Regions from separate parts of the Homo sapiens genome. Here region 2 is linked to region 1. Evidence: fine-mapped expression QTL. A gene starts in region 1. The other region holds a variant in brackets. All regions are shown on one strand. Distances are from middle to middle.

What was found.
Region 2: its variant is fine-mapped to the expression of SELENOM in fibroblasts (GTEx, PIP 0.94).

Annotation. Positions count from the first base shown.
Region 1 is chr22:31,102,514-31,111,258 of GRCh38, reverse strand. SELENOM (selenoprotein M) reads left to right here and starts at 3,691. Exons shown (of 5, transcript NM_080430.4): 1 at 3,691-3,882; 2 at 5,294-5,329; 3 at 5,567-5,601; 4 at 5,973-6,051; 5 at 6,131-6,482. The coding sequence starts at 3,754. The coding sequence ends at 6,289. It overlaps SMTN (smoothelin), which reads right to left. Exons shown (of 21, transcript NM_134269.3): 21 at 6,635-6,943. LOC105372995 (a long non-coding RNA gene) reads left to right here. Exons shown (of 3, transcript XR_938163.3): 2 at 3,156-3,188; 3 at 3,373-3,623. It overlaps LOC124905100 (a long non-coding RNA gene), which reads right to left and starts at 3,377. Exons shown (of 2, transcript XR_007068063.1): 1 at 3,151-3,377; 2 at 807-1,280. RefSeq lists enhancers at 4,235-5,007, 6,507-7,457.
Region 2 is chr22:30,985,680-30,994,424 of GRCh38, reverse strand. No RefSeq gene overlaps it. Among named protein-coding and RNA genes, the nearest start is that of TUG1, 21 kb to the right of the region's middle. The variant A/T (reference allele first, on the strand shown) is at 3,854.

The DNA of each region.
Region 1 (8,745 bases):
CTAAGTTTTGTATTTTTAGTAGAGGTGGGGGGTTTCACCATGTTGGTCAGGCTGGTCTCGAACTCCTGACCTCAGGTGATCCACCCACCTTGGCCTCCCAAAGTGCTGGGATTACAGGCATGAGCCACCATGCCCGTCCTGTATTAGGTACTGTTCTAATGAGCTTTATATGTGTTAACCCCTTTATCCTGCCAATCCCAACAGGGTACACAATATTGCATCACCACAATGTGTGCTCTGGGAAGTAAAAACCTTGATTGGAATTTTTGTCCAAAGAAATAAAAAGGCCAGGTGGAGTGGCTCACACCTGTAATTCTAGCACTTTGGGAGGCTGAGGCAGGAGGATCACTTGAGACCAGGAGTTTGAGACCAGCCTGGTCAGCAGCAAGACCCCGTAATCTACTGAATAAACAAACAGCGCAAACAGGGATTCCCTAGGGTTCGGTTTTCCTATCTCTTTTTTTCTACAACCAAATTGGTTTATTACAGGAATGCAAGGTTTAACATATGAAAATCAGTTCACATATTTTACCACATTTAATAAAATAAAGGAGAAAAACCACATGATCATCTCAATAGATGCAGGAAAACATTTGACAAAGTTCAACATCCATTCATGATAAAAGCTCTAAGAAAAATAGAAATAGAAAACTTTCTTTTACAAAAGGCACCAGTAACAAACCTACAGCAAACATGATCGTTTAAAGATGATATCTGGAAAAAGACAATTATCAGTTCCAGTCAACATTGTACCAGAGGCCCCAGACCGTAAAATTAAGACAGTGCAACGAAACAAAACCAAGGTATAAGGACCAGAAAGGAAGAAAACCACTTTTATTTCCAGATGATATAATATGCATATGTAGAAAATAAAAAAAAATATCCAGTTAAACTATTAGAGTAAGAAAATTCAGTAAGGTCACTGGCTGCAAGGTTAATATACAAAAATCAATTGTCTTCCTATATGCTACTACCAAGCAACTTGAAAATGAATATGTAAAAACAATAGAGTTTGTAATGCTATAAAAAATTAAATACCTAGGAGTAAATCTAATGAAAGATATGCAAGATATTTATTCTAAAAACCACAAAATATTATTGAAGGAAATTAAAGAAGACCTATAGAAATGGAGGGACTTACTATGTTCGTGGAAGAAAAGTCACAATAATGTAAAGCTGTAGAGTCTCCCCACATTGATTTCCCCAGTGGGAATCTGAAATCCTGATAGAAATTTGGAAGGTTTTTCTGTGGAGGTTGACGAGCTGGCCCTAAATTGTACCTGGAAGTGTGAAAGGCCAAGTATAGTCAAGACAACCTTCAAGAAGAACAAAGCTAGACTGCGATGGCTTACTGAGGCTGTGGGATCACACATGGCCCTCACCACAGGAAAATGTAGGCCACAGGCCAGGCATGGTCGCTCATGCCTGTAATCCCAGTACTTTGGGAGGCCAAGGCAGGAGGATCACTTGAGCCCAGGAGTTTGCGACCAGCTTGGTCAACATGGTGAAACCTCGTCTCTACTAAAAAGACAAAAAATTAGCCGGGTGTGGTGGCCGACGCCTGTAATCCCAGCTACTTAGGAGGCTGAGGCAAGAGAATCGCTTGAACCTGGGAGGCAGAGGTTGCAGTGAGTCCGGATCATGCCACTGGACATGAGAGTGTCCAGCCTGGACAATGAGAGTGAAACTCCGTCTCAAAAAAAAAAAAAAAAAATCAGCTGGGCATGATGGTGCATGCCTGTAGTCCCAGCTACTCAGGAGGCTGAGGTGGGAGGATTGCTTGAGCCTGGGAGGTTCAGGCTGTGATTGAGCCACTGCACTCCAGCCTGGGCAACAGAGCAAGACTCTGTCTCAAAAAAAAAAAAAAAATAGCCAGCCCAGCAGCTCACACCTGTAATCCCAGGACTTTGGGAGGCCAAGGCGGGTGGATGACTTGAGGTTAGGAGTTCGAGACCAGCCTGGCCAAGATGATGAAACCCCCATATTTACTAAAAATACAAAATTAGCTGGGCGTGGTGGTGGGCACCTGTAATCCCAGCTACTTGGGAGGCTGAGGCAGAAGAATCGCTTGAACCTGGGAGGTGGAGGTTGCAGTGAGCTGAGATCGTGCCACTGCACTCCAGCCTGGCTGACAGAGCAAGACTCTGTCTCAAAAAAACAAACAAACAAAAAAACAAAAAAAAATGGGCCAGGCGCAGTGGCTCACACCTGTTATCCCAGCACTTTGGGAGGCTGAGACGGGCGGATCATGAGATCAGGAGATCAAGAACATCCTGGCTAACACAGTGAAACCCCATCTCTACTAAAAATACAAAAAAATTAGCTGGGCGTGGTGGCGCGTGCCTGTAGTCCCAGCTACTCGGGAGGCTGAGGCAGGAGAATTGCTTGAACCCGGGAGGCGGAGGTTGCAGTGAGCCGAGATCAGGCCACTGAACTCCAGCCTGGGCAACAGAGCGAGACTCCGTCTCAAAAAAAAAAAGAAAGAAAGAAAGAACAAAGCTAGAGGACCAACACACAACCAGATGTCAAGTCTGACTATAAAGCTATAGTTAATAAGACAGCGTAGTTAGACAAACCCACTGAAGGACTAGAATAGGGTATGATATTCAGAAGTAGACTCCCATATATTTATATGGTTACCTATTTATTTATTTATTTATTTTTGAGACAGTCTCTGTCGCCCAGGCTGGAGTGCAGTGGTAGGATGTCGGCTCATTGCAAACTCTGCCTCCCAGGTTGAAGTGATTCTCCTGCCTCAGCCTCCCAAGTAGCTAGGATTACAGGCGCCCACACCACGCCCAGCTAATTTTTGTATTTTTAGTAGCGATGGGGTTTCACCATGTTGGCCAGGCTGGCCTCGAACTTCTGACCTCAAGTGATCTACCCACCTCGGCCTCCCAAAGTGCTGGGATTACAGGTGTGAGCCACCACGCCCGGCCGTGGTTGCCTATTTATATATAACAGAGGTAACGCGGCAGAGTAGCAATGAAAAAGACAAGATTTTTAATTGAATTGGATAGCCACATTAAAAAAAAAAGTAAATCCTGACTCCATAAATTTAACCCAGCTGATTTAAGACCCTGTTGTGGCCTATCAGCTGTAACCCTCCTTGCATTTTCCCACCTTTGAATAGCAAATTCCTTTCCTCACCCCAGGTCAGAAAGTCTGCTCAGCAGTAGCTGTGGATGGTAAGAAGACACGCTGGTAGGTCTCAGTGGCTCCCAGAAGCCGCACCCCCTCCACCGAACCTCACTCCTCATCTCCCACGCTCCAAAGCGAGGAGTCCTCAGAAAGCCAGTTTCCCTTATTTATTCTTCTTTCTTTCTTTCCTTTTTTTTTCTTGGATGTCCTACCAGTTTCCCTATCTTAAAGTCGCAGGTTCGGCTCAGAAACTCCAGTGTCCCTCAGCGTCTCGCCGGCACCCTCTGCCGGCGTGAGGTGGCGCTGCCTGGCCGCATCCTGGGGGAGCGTCCACATCCTCGGTCGACAAAAGGAGCGTCGACACTCTCGGACCTGGGAAAGTGACGGCCCAAACGCCAGGGAGGAGCCAGGACCTCGCCCTGAGCTAGCGGGAGGTAACGGCGGGGAGTCCTGGGGCGGAGACCGAGCGCTGGGGGCGTGGTCTCCAGCGGGACTGGGCCTCTAGCGGGAGTGGGGGCGGGGGCGGGGGCGGGGCCAGCCTGGGGGCCCAGACGTGGCGCAGCGACTCGGAGGTTCGCCTCCAGCTTGCGCATCATCTGCGGCCGGGTCCCGATGAGCCTCCTGTTGCCTCCGCTGGCGCTGCTGCTGCTTCTCGCGGCGCTTGTGGCCCCAGCCACAGCCGCCACTGCCTACCGGCCGGACTGGAACCGTCTGAGCGGCCTAACCCGCGCCCGGGTAGAGGTGAGTACGCCGGCCTCCAGCCCCGGCACTATCGTTCCCCAACCCTGCGGCCCCATGGGAGCACCGTCCGTCCCGGCCCCAAGACCACCTCGAACCGCGAGTCTCCCTGCTTTCCCCCTGGCGCCGGGACCATCCCTCCTGTTCCCTAGCCCCAGATGGCCCCAGCATCCACCGTGGAAGCCTGAGACACCGACTTTGGGGCCTGGAACTCCGAACCCTTCCCCAGCTCCCCCTACCCGGTCCGACAGCGGACACCCAGACACACTGACGCAGTCTCCTAACTCTTCTCGTGGCCTATGACTCCCAATCCTGTCCCAACTTCCCATCCCCCATCACTTCATGTTTTCCTGGAATTCCCCCCCGACCCGGTTCCAGGGCTGGAGGCTCCAGAAAGTCTCTTTTCCTTCTCCTGGGGGGAAAGAAGACTTTCTGGGTGCCTCCTCCCATATGCAGGATCCGGGGAAGGGGGCCAACTCGGAGGGGCAACCGAGTTGGGAACTTGGTTGCCAACATTTACTCTGCAGCAGCCTCCCATCCTCCCCCAACCAGGAAATTCCCGTTCGGAGTCCCTGTCTTGCTATGTGACTTTGACCATCACAGCCCGCCTCTGAGCTTTTTGTCAGCTCTGTCTGACAAAAGGGTGTAGAATGGTTGGGTGCCGGTGGTGCACGCCTGTAATCCCAGCACTTTGGGAGGCCAAGGCAGGAGGATTGCTTGAGCCCAGGAGTTCAAGACCAGCTTGGGGGACATAGTGAGACCCTGTCTCTAAGAAAAGGGCTGAGGGTAGGATGGAGGAGGGCTGGAGTGGGTGGTCCTGGGGTCTAGACTCCTGCTGGATGGTGGCATCTCCTCAGGGAAGGCAGGGAGGAGCCCTCCCATCCTCCCATGTCAGGGAAGCAACCACATGGTCTGTGGGGCTGGGCCGCAGGTGGCAGGCAGGGTGAGGTCTGCCTGTGTAGAGTAGGGACCAGATGGTAGGTGTCTCCAATGGGGGCCCCCAGGGCCATTCTGAGGTGTTTCCTTCTGCTCTGCCTCCACTGTGAGATTTCAGGGATCAAAGGCCAAGCCCAGGTCTCTACTGCTTAAGAGGAGCAGGGTGATCATTTCCCCTGGGCATTGGGAGTCAGTCCACAGCCAGTAGGATGTACAGGCCCCAAGGCTGGCAGGCACACTGTGGGTCTCTGGCCTTGCTCTTTTCCCCTGGTGTCTCTAGGCCTGAGTCTCCCCACCTGTATACACAGTTCCCCCTTCTGCCCACAAGGGTCCAGCATTTCCTTCAGACCTTGGGAACTGCTGATCCGGGGATAACTCACAGCCCGACCCAACTCAGGGATAAGGAAGTATGGCTTTGGGGATGTGACTGGAATAAACGTGAAGGACTCCTGACCTATCCCATTTTATCCCCCTCCAGACCTGCGGGGGATGACAGCTGAACCGCCTAAAGGAGGTGAGTTTGAAGGAAGAGGTCCCTAGCTCTGTTCCCCCTGAGCCTCTTGGGGAGTGGGCAACATGGTCCCAATGACTGGGGCGGGGAGGGGGGAAGGATCCCTAGGCTGAGAGTCTAGCCTAGGCTGAGAGTCTAGCCTGCACCTGACTTGCTTTATGACCTCACTGGGCTTCAGTGTCTCGTCTGTACCTCGAGTAGACTGAGGTCATGGTCTCTGATGCTCTGGTTCCTCCCCAGGTGAAGGCTTTCGTCACGCAGGACATTCCATTCTAGTATCCTTCTGTTCTGGGGGAGGGGAAATGGGATGGGCACCTGGGAGAATCTCCACGTAACTTCAGAAAGGGGTGGCAGATGGTTTTCAACTGACAAGTTGAATTGATTGGTAGTGGCTCCCAGAGGATTCTGAGGTGGTCTCCATGTTGGGTGGGCAAGAGAGATTGACTAGTGATGACTGCCACAGAATGGAGAGGAGGGCCCTTTACTTCTTTGAACCCTAATTTTCTCACGTATAAGCGGAGACCCTGGCCCCTCCCGGGCACAGAGTAAGCTCTGAGCAAAGGAGGCAATGCTGTTCCCATCAGTAAGGCTGCGGAAACCACCACCTCCCTCTGCCCACCACCCCGCTCCTTAACACCACCTCCAGTCACAACCTGGTGATGAAACACCTCCCTGGGGCCGACCCTGAGCTCGTGCTGCTGGGCCGCCGCTACGAGGAACTAGAGGTGAGGCCGTGGGAGGTGGGCTGGGGGCGAGGCCAGAGGCGAGGCCCAGCCTGCTGACCCCGCCCCTCCTCCGCCTCAGCGCATCCCACTCAGTGAAATGACCCGCGAAGAGATCAATGCGCTAGTGCAGGAGCTCGGCTTCTACCGCAAGGCGGCGCCCGACGCGCAGGTGCCCCCCGAGTACGTGTGGGCGCCCGCGAAGCCCCCAGAGGAAACTTCGGACCACGCTGACCTGTAGGTCCGGGGGCGCGGCGGAGCTGGGACCTACCTGCCTGAGTCCTGGAGACAGAATGAAGCGCTCAGCATCCCGGGAATACTTCTCTTGCTGAGAGCCGATGCCCGTCCCCGGGCCAGCAGGGATGGGGTTGGGGAGGTTCTCCCAACCCCACTTTCTTCCTTCCCCAGCTCCACTAAATTCCCTCCTGCCTTAACTGAGGCTCGACTCCTTCGTTGCTGCGGGCGGGTGGGGTGGGAGGTCGGAAGAAGAACCTCTGAGGATCCCTGCTGGAGTTGGAGACCTTGCGGAGCTGCCTTCGGTTCAAACCCCCTCCCCACCCCCAGGAGACGCAGAGAGGAGTCAGGATCGTTGAAAACCAATAATTTATCAAAACGCTGCGTGTGTATGTGGGGGGGAGGGTGTCGCAACAGACAGGGCAGCGGTGGGCGGACGCACAGGCAGGAGACGGTGCCCGGAGAGTGGGGGCGGCAGCTTGCCACTGGCTGGCCATGCGGGCGGGCAGGCTAGACATTCTTGCCGCGCAGGCGCAGTTCGTGGCGTCGCAGGTGGTTGTAGAGCGACTGCACATAGGTGAAGACACACTTGGGGTCAGGCTTCTTGCCCATGATCATCATGTCGTCCACCTCCACCAGGGGCACACAGTCCACCAGCATCCTGCAGGGAGGGGGCACGGGGTTGGATGTCAGCGCCAGACCCGCCTCTCGTGGCGCCCCTCTACCCCAAGGTCTTTTTTATTGCCGCATTGCCTGCTGGTCTTTCATAAACTCCAGACAGGGAAAAGCCTTCCAGGAAGGCAGGAAGCCCCTGGCTTCATCTACCCAAGCCTGGAGGCATCTCTCGGGGCGGGGGAGCAGAGCTAGGCAGGTGGAGGCGGAGATGGCAGAAGAGAGCCCCATCCCAGTCAGGCAGGTCCTGGGTCTGCTTCCTCCAACCCTGGGGAGGTGCTGGCTCCAAACCCTGCCCATGTTCTCCCTGGAGACCACCTTCTGCTCACCCTCACTGGCACACTCCAGTTGGTAGAAGCCTCTCAGCTCGGCCTTTGCACCCAGATGGGCTTCATCACTGGCCAATCTTTATCTATGGATAGGTCTCACTCTAGTGGCCCTGTGGTCCACCGATGATTGTCTGCTAGCTGCCTGATCTGGTACTTCCTGTTGAGAGGCCCAGGGACCCCTATTCTTTGACAGGGGGTGGGGATAACCCTGCTGCTGGAGATGGAGGCCAGGGAACGTGTGGGCAGCAGAGGGGTTCTCTAACCCTTATCACCTGCCTTGGGTAGAGCAGAGGAGGCAGATGAGGATCCCAGCCAATACCAATGGACCATCTATGCCATGCTCGGGGGGACCACCCTTCTGGCCATCCTTCAGAATGCTAGCTGCCCTTCACAGATAAGGAAACTGAGTCACAGAGCAGAGGAGCCATTTGTTTCAAGCCCCATGGCTTAGTAAGTGCAGGCTAGGCCGCATGGGACCCAGGCCCCCAGTTCTGGGTGTTGGCAAAGCCTTTTCCCCACTCTGGAGTGAGTGGGTTGTGCCTATTAAGCAACTGACAGCTCCCAGAGCTCTGAAGCTGGAGTCTGCTCTCTGGCTCCTTTTCCCCTGTCCCTCAACCCCCAGAGCAAGACCTCTTCTGCCTTGATCCCTCCTATCTGCCATACCTGGGACATAGCAAGCATTCAATGTTGCTGAATGAGTTTCCTATGGCAGGGAAGGCATAATGGCAACAATTGCTCCTTATTCTCAAGACACCTGAGAACCCAAGACCACCTCCCATCTCGTGCCCTTATGGACAAACTCAGAACTGTGGTAGGGCTGGGCCTACCCCCAGCTCACCTGGACTCCTTCAGAGAAGAAACCTGGGAGGCAGAACACCGAACACCTCTGTTTTAGTCCAGACTGTATCCCTAACCAGTTGTGGGTGCTAGATAAGGCCCTTTTCTATGACTGTTTCCCCCTCTTTAGAACAGGACAGTTATTCTCTATCTCATTTGAGACCTTACAAGAATTTAGGATGAGTGAGAGGGTTCTGGGTCTGCTGCTGATGTGCCACGTGCCCCTAGGGTCATCCCTATCCCAGACTGGGCTTGTTTCCCGAGCTGTACCATGATGCAAAGGCAGCCTCTCTCTGAAGCTTCTTCCAGCTGTGGCTATCGTCCTGGGGATCCCGACCGCCCTCTCCAACCTGGTGCTCCCTCCCGCCCCACTCCCTTCCCTGGAGACCTTATAAAGCCATTGTTTACACTGGGGCTCAGGGCTCAGGGCTCAGGCTGCCCCAGTGACAGGCCAAACACCAGGCAACTTGAGCAACAGCACGGCTGAGTCACACTTTCCAACTGGATCAGGGCTGGGCTGGGCCCCTCTCCCTCCAAGCTGGCTTGCTGGGCAGCAGCTCCTAAGTCCATATATGATCTGGAGATAGCACCAAGCCCATCCGCCACTCATCTGTGCTCCTTCTCT
Region 2 (8,745 bases), 120 kb after region 1:
TCTGTCCCTCTGGAGAATCCTAACTTATACACCACCCCAGAAGACGCATCACGGAGAAGAACTGAGGCCCCAAGCTCATGGCCCCAGTTGAGCTGTCCCAGCCATCTTCAGCCATCATCACTGCACTGCACTGCACTGCACTGCAGCTGATGTCTTAGATATCTAAGAACAGAGATGAACCATCCATACTGTGTCCTGCCCAATTCCTGACCCACAGAATCATAAGTATATAAAATGCTTGTTGTTTTATGATACTAAGCTTTTTGGGGTGGTTTGTGATACAGCAACAAACAACTGGAACAATCATAGTTTACAAATGTTAAACTAAGTATTGAAAGTGACCTCGGCCACAATCCCAGCACTTTGGGAGCCTGAGGTGGGCGGATCACTTGAGGTCAGGAGTTTGAGATCAGCCTGGCCAACAAAGTGAAACTCCGTCTCCACTAAAATTACAAAAATTAGCTGGGCATGGTGGTAGATGCCTGTAATCCCAGCTACTCGGGAGGCTGAGGCAGGAGAATCGCTTGAACCTAGAAGGCAGAGGTTGCAGTGAGCAAAGATCGTGCCATTGCACTCCAGCCTGGATAACAGAGTGAGACCCTGTCTCAAAAAATAAATAAATAAGCAAATAAAGTGACCTCATGCTACCTCGTCGCAATAGCTCCAGTACTTAGCACAGAGGACTGGTCTTCCAGAGGCTTGATGAAAGTTTATTGAATAAAATGACTCCTGCCTTCCTTCTTCCTTCCTTCTCTTTCCTTACTATCTTCCCACTCACATTTAAAAGGAAAAGGCTGGGCGCAGTGGGTCATGTCTGTAATTCCAGCACTTTGGGAGGCCAAAGCTGGTGGATCCCTTGAGTCCATGAGTTCGAGACCAGCCTGAGCAACATGGCAAAACCCTGTCTCTACAAAGGATAAAAAAAATCAGCTGGGTGTGGTGGCAGTTACTAGGGTTGCTGAAGTTGGAGGATCACTGAAACCTGGGAGGTGGAGGTTGCAATGAGCTGAGATCACGCCACTGCACTCCAGCCTGAGCGACAGAGTGAGATCCTGTCTCAAAAAATAAATAAATAAAACAAAATAAAATAAAATAAAAGAAGCCCAAATGCTCAAAGTTCTGAAATGATACTCTAGGAGCTGATTTTCAGTTGCTCAGGGGACCAGGGAAGAATTGGGCCTCATGGGTGGTGGATGGCCAGATCTCAGAGGGTTCTAGCTTCTTCCTATTCCAAGTCCCTCCAAGGAACTCCCTTGATTGGAGATGAGGCTGTGGCTTTAAGGAACTTATCTCTGATAATAATTCCAAGGGTAAAGCTCTGGGGCACTGTGTGGGTTTTGGGAATACAGCAGCTAAGCTACGATGTTATGAGGAATTTGGAAGGAGGGAACTCTCTGGGTGCCAACAGGCTATCTGGCCTTTGGCATGTCCTCCCCTCTCTGGCCTCAGTTTCCTTTTAATGAGTCTCCTTTGCCAAAGCCCACTCTGGGAAAAACCTGAGGTCATTAAAAATGGAATCTGGCAATGGCCCAAAATGCTGGAAACAAATTCACCCCTCTGATGCTTCAAATTCTTCAGAAAATGTGGGCTGACACTGGAAAGAGCAAGTCACAAAACGGTCCGTACAGAACATTCTCTGTTTGTAACTTTATCCAGCCTCCCTGTATAGAACCAAGGTGGTGAAGGCTACTTGCCAATGTGTTATCTGTGGTTATCTGAGTTGGCAGGAGGAAATTATTCTGGGTAATTTTTATTTTCTTTTTGTGTGCTTCCAGATTTTCTACAATGAACATCTATTACTTTTGATAATCAAGAAATTAAAAAAGTTTAAAAGCAGGCCTTTTGGCACATGCCCTTTGTCATGCTCAGTAAGTACACAAGTTGCTTCTGGGTAGAAGTAAAAAAGAGAGGAATCATCCATGCAGCCTTGTGGGTGAAGACTGTGGGGTTTTCTAATTTATTGGTTTTCCCTTGCTATACAACAAATTACCACAAACTTAGTGGCTTAAAACAACACACATTATCTCACAGTTTCTGTGGGCTGGGAGTCCAGGCATGGCTTAGCCGAGTCCTCTGCTCAGGGACCCACAAGGCTACAGTCAAGATGTTGGGTGGGCTGTGTTCTCATCTGGATGTTTGAATGGGGAAGAATCCACTTCCAAGCACACTCAAGTTGTTGGCAGAATTCAGTTCCTTGGAGCTGTGGGACAGAGGGCCCCAGCTTCTTGCTGTCCTTTGCTTGGAAGCCACCCTCAGATCTATACCCACAGTTTCTTGCCATTTGGGATTTCCCAACATGTCCACTTTCTTTAACAAACCAGCAAGGAGAGCTTCTAGAGCAAGACACTATTTTTTTTTTTTTTTTTTTTTTTAAGCAGGGTCTTGTTCTGCCACCCAGGCCAGGCTGGAGTGCAGTGGCATGATCTTGGGATCACTGTAACCTCCACCTCCTGGGTTCAAGTAATTCTCCTGGCTCAGCCTCCTGAGTAACTGGGACTACTGGCACACACCACCATGCCCAGCTGATTTTTTTTTTTTTTTGTATTTTAGTAGACACAGTGTTTCACCATGTTGGCCAGGCTGGTCTCGAACTCCTGACCTCAAGTGATCCATCTGCCTTGGCCTCCCAAAGTGCTGGGATTACAGGCGTGAGCCACCATGCCCAGCCAAGACAACATTTTCTAAAAGGAAATCATAAAACCCACCTTAAGGGGAAGTCAATTGAAAGGGAAGGGATGACACAAAGGTACTGTTATGGACTGAATATTTCAGTAAAATTCACATTGAAGCCCTAACCCTCACCCCCACAGTGTGACTATATTTGAAGATGAGCCTCTAAGGATGTAATATTAAATGAGGTCACAAGGGTGAGGCCCTGATCTGATAGGATTAGTGACCTTGTAAGAAGAGCTCTTTCTCTATGTGCATGCACCAAGTAAAGCCATATGAGGACATATTGAGAAGGCAACCATATATAAGCCAGAAAGAGAGCCCTCAGAAACCAAGGCAGCTGATCACCCTAATCTCAGATTTCCAGCCTCCAGAAGTGTGAGAAATTAATTTCTGTTGTTTAAACCACTCAGTCTGTGGTATTTTGTTATGGCAGCCTGAGATGACTAAGATAGATGTGAACACCAGGAAGCATGGATCATTGGAGAGTGGTGGGGGTAAGAACACCTTTAAGCCTGTCTGCCACTTAATATTGTGAGGTTGGCTGGAATTCCAGATAGAAATTCCAGAAGCTAAGGTTCTCCTCAGAGGTTTTCATTCTGTAGGCCAGTGTGAGGCTTGCGAAGTTCTGAATGAACTCTCTGAAGGTGATCTCAATGATGGTGGCAGGTGGCCTACATCTGGGGAATAGATCAGGCAGCTTCAAATCCTGGCCCTGCCACTTCCTAGCTATAGAACCTTAGATTAATGGCTTCTTTCAGCCAAAGTTTCTTCATCTGATGTTGCCTGGCAAGTTATTAAAGGAAAATATAAAACACTCTCTGGTGTAAGCAGCTCTTATCTCCAGCCCAGCCCCAGCAAAAGGAGGCTGATGATATTGCTGTCTCATACCCCATCTGGAGATGTCCTTAGTATTCGGTGTTTCAGGGCCATGCAAAGATTTGAAATAAGAAGGGGACAGGATTTGAGGATGTTCAAAACATGGAGGAGACCTAATTCTTGCTTGTCCTTACAGCTGGAGAAGGTGAGTGTCCAGGTGTATATCTGAAGTCAGTTGGGGGACTGGACTGAAGGAAGAGCCAGTGTCTCTGGACACCAGAAGGAAGCGTCCTGGGCATGATGTCTAATAGCAGGTGAAGGAGGTGCTTTTTTTCCATGTGGTGACCACCATGGGAGGTGCCTT[A/T]GATTTTTGTCATCACAGAGTCATGGCTGGGGGTAGGGCGGTGTGAGCAAGTAGACTCAGGGCGGCATGAAATAACCTATAAAGGTATGGGAAACTTCTTGCGCTAGGGCTATGGAATAAAATTCATACCTGAAACATGTCAAATGAGATGACGTGTGTAAATTGCAGAGTTGTGTCTGGCACATGCTAAGGGTTTGATAAAAGAAAGCTACTATTCTGTTATCAACATCTCCTAGTTGAGTGGCTAAAAAGCCTCTGTTCTTATTCATCCACCATCATGGGTCCATTGTTTTCCAGGTTGAAGAAGATATATGGCTCAGAGAATGAGGTTTTGGTAGAAGCCTGCGTAGAAGATCATTTATATGGAGGGGATCCTCATACAGTGGATAAAAGCAGAGATCTTAGTTCCATTCCCAGCCCTAATCAGTTATTAACATGTATTGTAATAATGTTACAGAATGCTGTCCAGAATTGGGAGACGGGGTGGTATGGGTGTGTTTTAGATGCTTAACCAAAGGATATTTGAGCAAAATATACCATCAGGGCTAGATTACTGGGCATGCAACCTGCGGAGTCACACAAGCCTCCATACTTAAAAGGGCCCTGCTCCCAGAAGGGCCTCACATTTGTTTTGTGCTCTATTGTCACCTTCTTGAAATTCTTAATGATTTTTGAACAAGGGACCCCGCATTTTCATTTTGCACTAAACCCAACAATTTATGTATATGTCCTGTATACCACATCTTGATCTGAGTTCTTAGCAGCAATCTGAATGTGAAGTTTCCAAATTTCTTACAGCCCTTTATCTTCTATGAGTCTTGATAGATGTTGAGCAACTTCCTCCTTATGAAATTTCACAAGGCAGGGGTAGAATATGGACACTATAGGTTTAGGGGAAGGGGAAGGAGTCAGAGCCAGGGAGAGTGTGTGAGGATCCCCTCCACATAGGGCACCCAAAGATGTATAAAAGGAAGTGGTTTCCTGTAAGGCCTAGGTGGAAGACACATGGAAATCTGACTCAAATTTTCCAAGTGGAAGAAAGACCAGGAAATGAGAGAGGCAAGGAAAGAAGGGAATAAGCAGGTTCTGCCTCTCCTTCTTAGGCTGTTAGGTCCTAAGGACAAGCACAGAGGTGAAGCAAGAGTATGTGGTTATCATCAAAGGGGTCCACAGGGCTGTCAGGACACAATGCTATTGGAGCAGGGTTCTTTGCCTTAAAAGAGGGTACTGGGAGAGGTATCTTGGCGAAGAGCTATAAACACAGCAGCCTCAGCCCTCATTCCCTTTTTGGGTGCTCCAGGCACAAGGAAACAGCAATCCATTTGGCGAAGTGCTAAGAACAACTTGGTATCAATTTGCTTTTCGGCCAAAGCCAAGGATACTTGCTATTATAGACTCGAGGTTTCTTGAAACTTTTCCACATTCATTTTTGATCACTGTGAGTTTTCCCATAGTTAAACATAATGTAGCATCTCAAAGTGGTTGGGGTTGGGGCTTGCTTTGGGCCAGAAAGGGATGGGAGAAGCTGCATAACTCAACCCCGTTCTTCTGTAGGACCTGCAACGAAGCCTGTTCTACTACAGGCTGCCTTTCATCAAGACCTCTTCTAGGTCCTGTCTTTGGGGCTGGTTTCCAGGGCTGTCTCATGTGTGCATGTGCATGTTTACGTGTTGCTCTGAACTCTGATTTCATTCTTGATTTGTCATACACTTTCCAAAATTTGTGGTATAACTTAAGTGATTACATTGGAAAATGAATATTGTAAAATACACACAGAATATACTGCAGTATAATTGTGCTGGTCACAAGGCAAACAGAGATTTAAAACATCAGTTCATAGTGCACTCCAGGTGTTTGTTCTTAGGATAGGACGCAAGTTGAATGTCATTTTGAGGACCATCATTGTTGTGTTATGAGCATACCAGTAAATATTTATGACTGGAGCCTGAGTTCGTTGGTTCTCCTGTCTCGCCACCTCCATGGAAGCCATGTTCTATGTATGTCTCCTGAATCCTAGAAGACCTAAAACAGCCTCTGATCTTCTCTGGCCAAACCATCTTCTCTCCAACTCCAAAGAGTTCCAGGCATCATCTGAACTTGAGAAATCAGACTCTTGTCCAAAGAGGCCAAGTGTTGAATCAGGCAAACGTGATTCTGCTCTTTTTTTTTGAGATGGAGTGTCGCTCTATCACCCAGGCTGCAGTGCAATGGCACGATCTTGGCTCAGTACAATCTCCACCTCCCGGGTTTAAGTGATTCTCCTGCCTCAGCCTCCCGAGTAGCTGGGATTACAGGCACCCACCAACATGCCCAGCTAATTTTTATATTTTTGTAGAGATGGGGTTTCACCATGTTGCCTGAGCAAATGGCAATTGTTAGCAATAATGCTGTTAAGGCAACAATATCCTGGAAGACTTAGCTCAGCCAGCCATTCCCTTGCCATTTTTAACCACAGCACAACTGCTGGTGTCAATGACATGCACATGCTATCACATTCAATTTGTTTTATAAGGAAAAGCAATTTCTTATTTACCCCACCACCCTCAGAAATGCTGTCGACAGAAAAACATGTCACATTCCCTTTCTCTCATGGGCTGAGGTCCTTGGATGCCACTCATGCCAGTTGGCCAGTTAGCAAATGTGGTAGGAGGCCTGGATTAAGAAGGTCCAATTCTCATTCATAGAAATATGGCCTTTCTTGGGCAGATCACTTGAGGCCATGAATTTGAGACCATTCTGGCCAATATAGTGAAATCCTGTCTCCACTAAAAATACAAAAATTAGCCAGGTGTGGTGGTGCACGCCTGTAATCCTAGCTACTCGGGAGGCTGAGGTAGGAGAATTGCCTGAACCCAGGGGACGGAGGTTGCAGTGAGCCGAGATTGCACCACTACACTCCAGCCTGGATGACAGAGTGAGACTCCATCTCAAAAAATTAAAAAAGAAAAAATGAAACATGACCTCTGTCATCTCTATCAGAGCAGGTGAACAGTCCTGGGAGCCTGGGCACACTCCACAGGGATAAATGGCTTACCACTGCACTGACTGCATCAGATCAAGGTCCCATACCCTCAATTGCTACTTGTTATTAAAAAAAAAAAACCGTAGGTTTGTTTCAGTCAGAGTCCTGGTCCTTTACACCAACAATAATAAAAGGTATTTTTCTGCTTAGGTGTAATTCCAAACAATTAGAATATCCCAGAAGCCCTCACAGTTTTATCCCAGGTTGCCATCCCAAACCAGTAGGTCTCCATGTCTTAAAGTAGCCGAAATAAGACCCAGTCATTAGGTCAGGGAAATGGGCTGAAGCTAGATCAACAATTACATCAAGAGTGGAACACTGAGAATCTTAAGGACTCCTGGGCTCATCTTTGCCATTCTCCTGAGTCAACAGAAGTGGAACAGAAACAGCAGAATTAGGCCGGATGCAGTGGCTCACTCCTGTAATCCCAGCACTTTGGGAAGCCGAGGCAGGCAAATCACCTGAGGTCAGGAGTTCAAGACCAGCCTCATTCTCAGATGAGCAACCTCCTTGTGGTGGCAAGAGGGCTGCCAATAATGCCAGTCTTGCAACCTTACAGTTCTAAATTCAATAGATTAAAAAGGAAATTCCCCCACCTCCATTAGCTCTATTTGTGTAAAACTGGCTTGGCTTAGATAATAAACTCACTCCATATCCAACTACCCTGACCAAGGCGCTGCAGTGCTCTGGTCGGTCCGAGTTACATGCTCAGTCCTGGAGCCAGGGGTAGTGAACAGACAGAAAGTGAAGGAGGGTTGGAAACTCAGAGCGCAACTAATATTCTCTTATCAAAAGAAGTGAAGATAGATACTGAGTAGACAAAAGCAATGGATGTCCATAACAGTGAGACTCTGAGAGCATAAAGGAGGGCCACTGAACTAATAAAGAGACCAATTTATTAATTTATGATTTTTTTCTTGAGACGGATCTCACTCTTGTTCCCCAGGTTGGAGTGCAATGGTGCGCTCTCAGCTCTCAGCTCACTGCAACCTCCGCCTCCTGAGTGGCTGGGATTACAGGCACCCACCACGCCTGGCTTAATTTTTGTATTTTTAGTAGAGACGGATTTTACCATGTTGGCCAGGCTGGTCTAGATGTCCTGACCTAAAGTGATCTGCCCGCCTCGGCCTTCCAAAGTGCTGGGATTACAGGCGTGAGCCACTGTGCACAGCCCTATTAATTTATGATTAAAGATATGTGGCTGGTTCATGACCCAACCAGTCATCTACTCTTAGTGAGTCCAGCTAGGGGCAGGTTGATTCAGTAGTATAAAATCAGAACGGATGGAATCAGATGTTCCTAAGAAATATTTCCAGCAAAATATTTATGGGCAGACTACGTTCAGTTGTGAGGCAGAGAAAAACCTCATATACTAATGATGTCAAGAAGACAGAAATTAGTTTTGTAAACGAGGTCCAGAGATAAGCAGTTCAGGCCTGGTAAGGTGGCTTCACATTCATCAGGAATCTAGGCTCCTTCTAACTTGTTGCTCCATCGTCACTGGCACAGAGTGCCTTCTCCTTTATGGTCCAACAGTGACAAATTCCAGTCATGGAATTCTAGTCAGCGGGGTGAAGCCTACATTCTAGTCAGGAGGGTGAAGGAAGGAGATGGGCTCACTCCTTTTTAAGGATAAGTCCTATAAGTTACTCAGGTCCCACTGGCTAAAATTTAGTTAGTGGGTTACACCTGCCAGGGAAACTGAAAAATGTGTTTACTCTGGGAAGAACAAATACAGGGAGACAACACATCTTTGTTAGAAGTGGCACCCTAGTGGACAACCCTTTCTCTGTCGTAGGGAGTGGCCTATTCAAAGGCTGAGGGCCAGTCACCTGGAACCCATGCATCTACAAAAGGCAACCCTGGATAT